Linked DNA regions of Homo sapiens. The protein of the gene in region 1 interacts with the protein of each later gene in a pairwise test. Each region holds a gene or a part of one and is shown on either strand. Other genes may lie near its edges.

Evidence for each region.
Region 2: the proteins of CORIN (region 1) and GPX8 interact in binary tests that used the Homo sapiens proteins (3 or more experiments, as listed by UniProt).

The regions. Positions count from the first base shown.
Region 1 is NC_000004.12:47,663,146-47,667,428, forward strand, and holds part of CORIN (atrial natriuretic peptide-converting enzyme), read right to left. Parts: intron 2,119-4,283; coding exon 1,887-2,118; intron 1-1,886. UniProt on the Homo sapiens protein: Serine-type endopeptidase involved in atrial natriuretic peptide (NPPA) and brain natriuretic peptide (NPPB) processing.
Region 2 is NC_000005.10:55,165,484-55,167,797, reverse strand, and holds the end of GPX8 (probable glutathione peroxidase 8), read right to left. Parts: 3' UTR 501-2,314; downstream 1-500.

The DNA of each region.
Region 1 (4,283 bases):
ATATGCAGCACCACAAGTCCAGGGGGCGCTGTTCTTATCATAGTCCTTGTAGTGTTCAGCCATAGGTAGCACCTCTGATGATACACACTTCAAAAGGTTATTTTGAGTACGCTACAGCATAACAATCCTCAAGTATTTAGCCCATTGTAAGGACTCGATGTTAGATTTTTCAGTCTCATAGCTAAAAAATTCAATGTTAAAATTAATAAACACACCTAGCAAAAGCAACTATGTATTGCTTTATGAACTTATTAGCATATTATTCAAAAATTTCTTATAAACAAATATCAAAATATAAAATTCGTAGTGATAGACACTGAAAATGAAAGATGTATGGGTAAACCTGAAAAAAAGAAATAAATTTATCTAAAAGAAATTTACCAAAATTTTGATTGAACAACACTTCAGGATCATCCTTGGTCTTATGCATTTTAATATGGAACTTAAGCCCTGAAATTATAAATTACATCTGGATATAAATTCACATTTATATTTATAGCAGAAAATGCTGCTTCAGGGAAATTTTTATCTACATATGAAAAGAAAGTCAAATGCCAGAAATTGTTAAGTACTATTAAAAGAAATTATTCACTATCACTGACCTTGCTTTGCAAAAGTGAAGTAAGATTTAAAACAGCTTTTTAACATAAAATTGGTAGATGTTTTATTAGAGATACTTTTAAAAGTACTTAGCAGAAATTTTCAGATATTTTTCTACACAAGCTAACATTTAGTTTTATTCTCTCTATTGGTATAATTTGTTCAGTTCCCCAAGTCATTTTGAAATTTTATTATTTCCTGTCCTGTCTCTATAGATGCCCTTACTTTGTTATCCATTTGGTATTCAGCATATAATTTATTGTTTTCTCTTCTGTCCACTATAGTAATAGTACTGCTTTTTAAAAAAAACTCTGCGTGACTTCTGATCCCAACATATGGTTTCTGCAGTTGCTACTCGCATTTAGGCCAGCACATTTGTATACCTACCCCTTGAGGGAAAACAGCACTGAAGAGAGTAGCAACTCACTTCTGAGAGTCATCCTGTATATGCAAACCCTCTGACTACAATGCCTAACACATGGCGCAGCAAAGGGACAGACTGCCAAGAAGCTATTGTGTTCCTGTGCTATCATCATAGCTATTGTCCATTCAGGGTTCATTACAATGAATCAGAAGCACTTTACATTCATTTGATCTCAAAACAATACAACCCAACAACCATTACTATCCTTATTCTACATGTAAAGGAACCGAGGCTGAGAGAGACTCAGGATTTTGTCTAAGGGCTACCTAGAAACTAGAGAAGGGTCAAGATTTTAACCCAAACATGGACTCTGGAACAATACTCTTGACACTAGAATATCACTCATATTCAAAGTCCAAGCTACGCTCTTGAAATAGCGCATCTTATTTCATTCAAACAGGCAGAGAAATGTCAGCAATGTCCATCGCTGTCCAATCTGTGAGTCTGGCACTATGTATTCTTATGTCATATCTCTAACAAGTGCTGTCAGAGTGCAGCATTGTAAACACATCAGTGTTGCCAGAAAAAGAGGCAGATATATCCCTTTTATACTATCATACTTTTTTAAAAAAATGGCTTTTTAATACAACAGAATGAAATACCTGTGAATTTATTTGATTAAAACACATAAACTATCATCAAAGGACGTTCACAGCTCCCTTGTTTGGTACTTCGTTAATGAATTCTGACTCAAATATTCATTTTACAACTTCTACTTCTTTGTCTCACTTGTTAAATATAAAGTATTTGATAAATGCAGAGCTCCTTAGGGAAATTTACGTTGTCCAAACTCAACTAAGTCTTCACCCCTTGGTTCTCTCTGAGGCAAAATAAGGGACTGGGGTAGATCCCATCATATTACCTGCAAGGAGGGATATGCTCGCCTGTATTCACATCACATTTTGGTACCAAAATGGTGCAAGAAAAGAACATGAGGTATTTATAACAGTTGGTTTGAACAAGTGCAGGGAAAAGAGAAGACTCCCAGCTGATGGATGCTTCCTTTTGAGTCCTGTGGCCAAAATAATTTGGATAACTTGTACTGTTGTAGGGCAAATTCATGCAGAGTTCCAATGTAATTGGTTCACATTGACCTAACAAAGAAACATACACACAAATATTTTTAAATTTCACATATAAAAACAACTTCTTTAAGTTTTACAAACTTGAAGTCTATTTTATTCTTTCTTTAGAGTAGCTAAGACTAGAATGCCAGTAGTATATAACATTTTTTATGGATATTGAAAATAAGTAAGTTGATTAGTGAAGTGCCCTGGCAACTAAGATTCATTTCTGTATATGTAGTTGCTAGCACTGTGACAACATCTTGCTTTAGAAAGTCCTTCCTCATTTTTTCCCTTGGCTCAACTTATCTAAAGATGACTCTCTTTCATCATTCCTTTTATTGACTCCAATTCATCTTCTTCTTCTGATTTACTTATTACTACTAAAATAGGATAGCCCCATCATCTTCACTGTCACTAAACTAATTAATGAATTTGATCAAATAGGCAAGTAGATAACTTCTGTCTATATGTTTTATTGTTGATTAATGTGTTTAAATATAAGGCTACAAGATTTCAGGGCAAGAGGAGGCTCAGATCTGTTGAATACTTCTCACTAATAAGACAAAATCCAAACCCCTTAGCTTGAAGTCTGAGGCTATTTTATACTTCAACCCTAGGCTAACTTTTCAGCTTCATTGCCTGTGATTATCCAATCAACAGTATCTCTGCTGTAATAAATTCTATTCCCTTATGACACCAGATATTTTAAGAATTGTATGACTTTATGCACCCTGTTTGCTCCTCTCTTACCTCCTCTTTTATAACATGCTCATAATTATCTCCCCAAAGGTGGTCATGGTTCTAGCTGCCAGGGCCATACGGCACCTGCTGCCTGGATTAACCCTTTCCCATCTTCCCCAACAAGCTAACTCCTCTGTGGTCTGGAAGACTCAGCACAAATACCTCTTCCAGGAAACCTTCCTGGCCAACCACTCTTCCCATTACTACTTCCAGAATGAGTCTTTTGTGAGTGCAATAGCGTCTTAGGCACATACCCACCATATGTTCATTGCATTCTGCCATATTCTTTATTTACTTACTTGCCTCCCCTACACAATCCTGAGATTTTTGTGAAATGAGACTTTATCTCTTGATCTTGAAGTCTACACCTAGCACAGTGCCAGAATGAAGGGAGGAAAATGTATCAGGGACTATCCTAGGCAATGTAAATGTAAGAGTAATGAGAAATATTGTCTCTGCCACTGAGGAACTCCACAATCTCGATAGGAAAAAGGATGCACGCGCTGGTAGCTGTAGTAGAATGTGAACAGGGTAGGATAGAGTTTGCATGAACTGAACATTTGTGTATCTCCATTCATACGCTGAAACTCTAACCTGCAATGTGATAGTATTTGGAGGTGGGGCCTTTGGGAGGTGATGAGGTTTCAATGAGGTCTAGATGAGGGTGGCATTTATATGGGATTAAAGTCCTTATAAGAAGGAGAAGAGACTAAAGCTCTCGCTCTCTCAGCCATGTGAGGAAACGCAAGAGGGCAACTGTCTGCAAACCAGGAAGCAGCCTGTTACCAGAGACCAAGTCTGCCAGCATCCTGATCCTGCACTTCCAGCCTTCAGAACTGTGAGAAATAAATGTTTGTCATTTAAGCCACCCAATCCATGGCATTTTATTGTAGCAGCTTGAACATACTAAGACAGACATATTGAACAAAATGCTAGAGTCCAAAGGGAAAAGGTAGTGCAAGAGTGAACTGGGAAGCCCTCTGATATGGTCTGGCTGTGTCCCACCCAAATCTCATCTTGAATTGTAGCTCCCATAATCCCCACTTGTTGTGGGAGGGAGCCAGTGGGAGATCACTGATAATGGGGCAGTTTTCCCCATACTGTTCTCATGGTAGTGAATAAGTCTCACAAAATCTGATGATTTTATAAGGGGTTTCACCTTTCACTTGGCTCTCATTCTTCTCTTGTCTGCCACCATGTGAGACGTGCCTTTTACCTTCCACCATGATTGTGAGGCCTCCCCAGTCATGTGGAACTGTAAGTCCATTAAACCTCTTTCTTTTGTAAATTGCCCAGTCTCAGGTATGTCTTTATCAGCAGCGTGAAAACAGACTAACACTCCTTCCAATGATAAATGTGGTTTGGGCAGCTTTGGGGGAATACAGCAGAGAGGCTCCCAGCTCCCTCTCTCTGTTTGCAGTAGATATGCCACATTCCCTGTGTGGAGAGGC
Region 2 (2,314 bases), on another chromosome or scaffold:
TGACCTCTTTGGGCTCAAGCAATCCTTCCACCTCAGCCTCCTATGTAGCTGGGACCTGAGGCATGTGCCACTACACCCAGCTAATTTTTTGATTTTTTTTGTGGAGACAGGGTTTTGCCATGTTGCCCCAGGCTGGTCTCTAACTCCTGGGCTCAAGTGATCCTCCCACCTCAGCTGCTTAAAGTGCTGATATTACAGGCCTGAGCCATCATGCCCATCACCAATTATCACATTTTTAGAAATTTTGCATCCTAGTTACTAAACCAGTGGTAGATTGAAATTGACCATGAGGGAGCATGAGCATTTACATTGAGCTGGCAAATGCTGTATGTCAGGATTCCTCCTCCAGAGTCTGCTATTAAACATGTACCAGCCACCATTATATATATGCTAGATACACTGCAGTTATTAAGAATTATATATATGTACACGTATATATACTATTGATACAGTGTAATTGTTAAACATTTAAAAAAATGAAATACAACTTTCAGGGCACATTTCAGCCAAATTCATATTTATTCCAGTCTCTAACACTCTGTTGTTATGTCTGCTGTAAGATGATCAGGAGTTAGTATGAAGTATTCTTCTCTACGCACCAAAGAAAACAAACAAAGCAAACTTCAAGTCAGTGAATTAGTTACCACAGTTAAAATGCATTTGATTTTGTCCTTTTCCTTTTTCACAAGAACGACAGCTGAATACTCTTTCATGTGATGCCTGATATTTTTCTTTTTCTTTTTCTCTCTTTTTTGAGACAGGGTCTTTAAGATGGGGTCTCGCTCTGTTGCCCAGGTTGGAGTGCAGTGGTGCAATCTTGGCTCATTGCAACCTCAGCCTCCTGTTTTCAAGTGATTCTTCTGACTCAGCCTCCCAGGTAGCTGGGATTACAGGCATGTGCCACCGTGCCCGGCTAATTTTTGTATTTTTAGTAGAGATGGGGGTTTCACCATGTTGGCCAGGATGGTCTCGAACTCCTGACCTGAAGTGATCCACCCGCCTCGGCCTCCCAAAGTGCTGGGATTACCGGTGTGAGCCACTGTGCCAGGCTCTGATGTTGATATTTTTCTGTTACAGTCCTTAGCCCAGGCATCCTGTAGCACTCTGTGTCCCAGACTTTTTGATGCAGAAACAAGACTGAAGGAAGATTGTCCAATATAGGAAAGATTCAACTTTTCCTCTATGTGTTTGTCCGCTGGTATTCCTATGAGGCATTTGAGTTACAGGTAGCAGCACATCAGCAAATGACTCCGCTCCCTCTCTCAGCACACATAGCCTAATTGTTACAGAACCCCGAAGGGACACCTGAATGTCCTTTCTTTCAAGGCAATATGTATGACACGCTTTCAAATCTCCTCCTGCCTACTCTGCTTACCTAAAGGGCAAGGGGAGAAAATCCAGCACTGACATAGAGTCTGTAGGTTGAATAAGGCAGCCAAGATTAGAGAGATGTAAGTGAAGAAACCCACTTTATCTGGCTTTGGAGAGAGCTAGTGACTTAAGGCAGGATGTTCATCTGTATCATGTTGACTGGGACAGTCCTGGTTGTTCCCAGTGCAGCTCCATTATCATCCATCTGGCAGTGGGGAGTCTCTGCTGCCCATGTGGTGCTGGCATATGCAGTTCTGCTCATGCTCCTAACGTGAATGCATAAAACACCCCTGCAGTGCCACAGCACTGCTATGAGTTCATGGAAGGCGTAGGTGAGGATACAAGGCAAGAGTGCTCTGGCACCAACACTTGGAGGGGCCACCTGAGCATAAGTTTTCTTAGAGGCTCAGAATTCAAATTGCTAATAGGCTCTTGGAGCAAAATTGCAAAGGACAGATAGGCTTGTTGGTGGCTTCTGTTTTCTTCGCTAACAATCCAGGTTAGTTCTGATTTCCTTCCTGGTCACTTAAAACACCTTAGTAAGTGTGTTAATTGACTTTTAGAGTTGCAAAGGGCTTTTTATTCCATTCAACCCCTGTTCAATTTACAGGTGAGGAAACTGAAATAAGGTACTTAAGTGACTTGCCTAAAGTCACGCAGCTGGCGAGAGGTAGGAGCAGGCTTTCTGACACACTCATCTGGCATTCTTGAGGCTATCCCTACAAATCCTCTTGACCTCTGGTAGAAATTCCACCTCCACCAAATATCTTTCTAAATACATTCATAGCTGGGTGGCTGGATATGGACTCTGAAGCAGAAGATGCTTCATGAAATATTTTTGGTTTATCTAATAACTTTGGTCCAAATACGTATACAGAACTATATACTGAGGTAGCATTACTGAATTTGCCATACGAAACATCTTCACTTTCATCCATCAGGT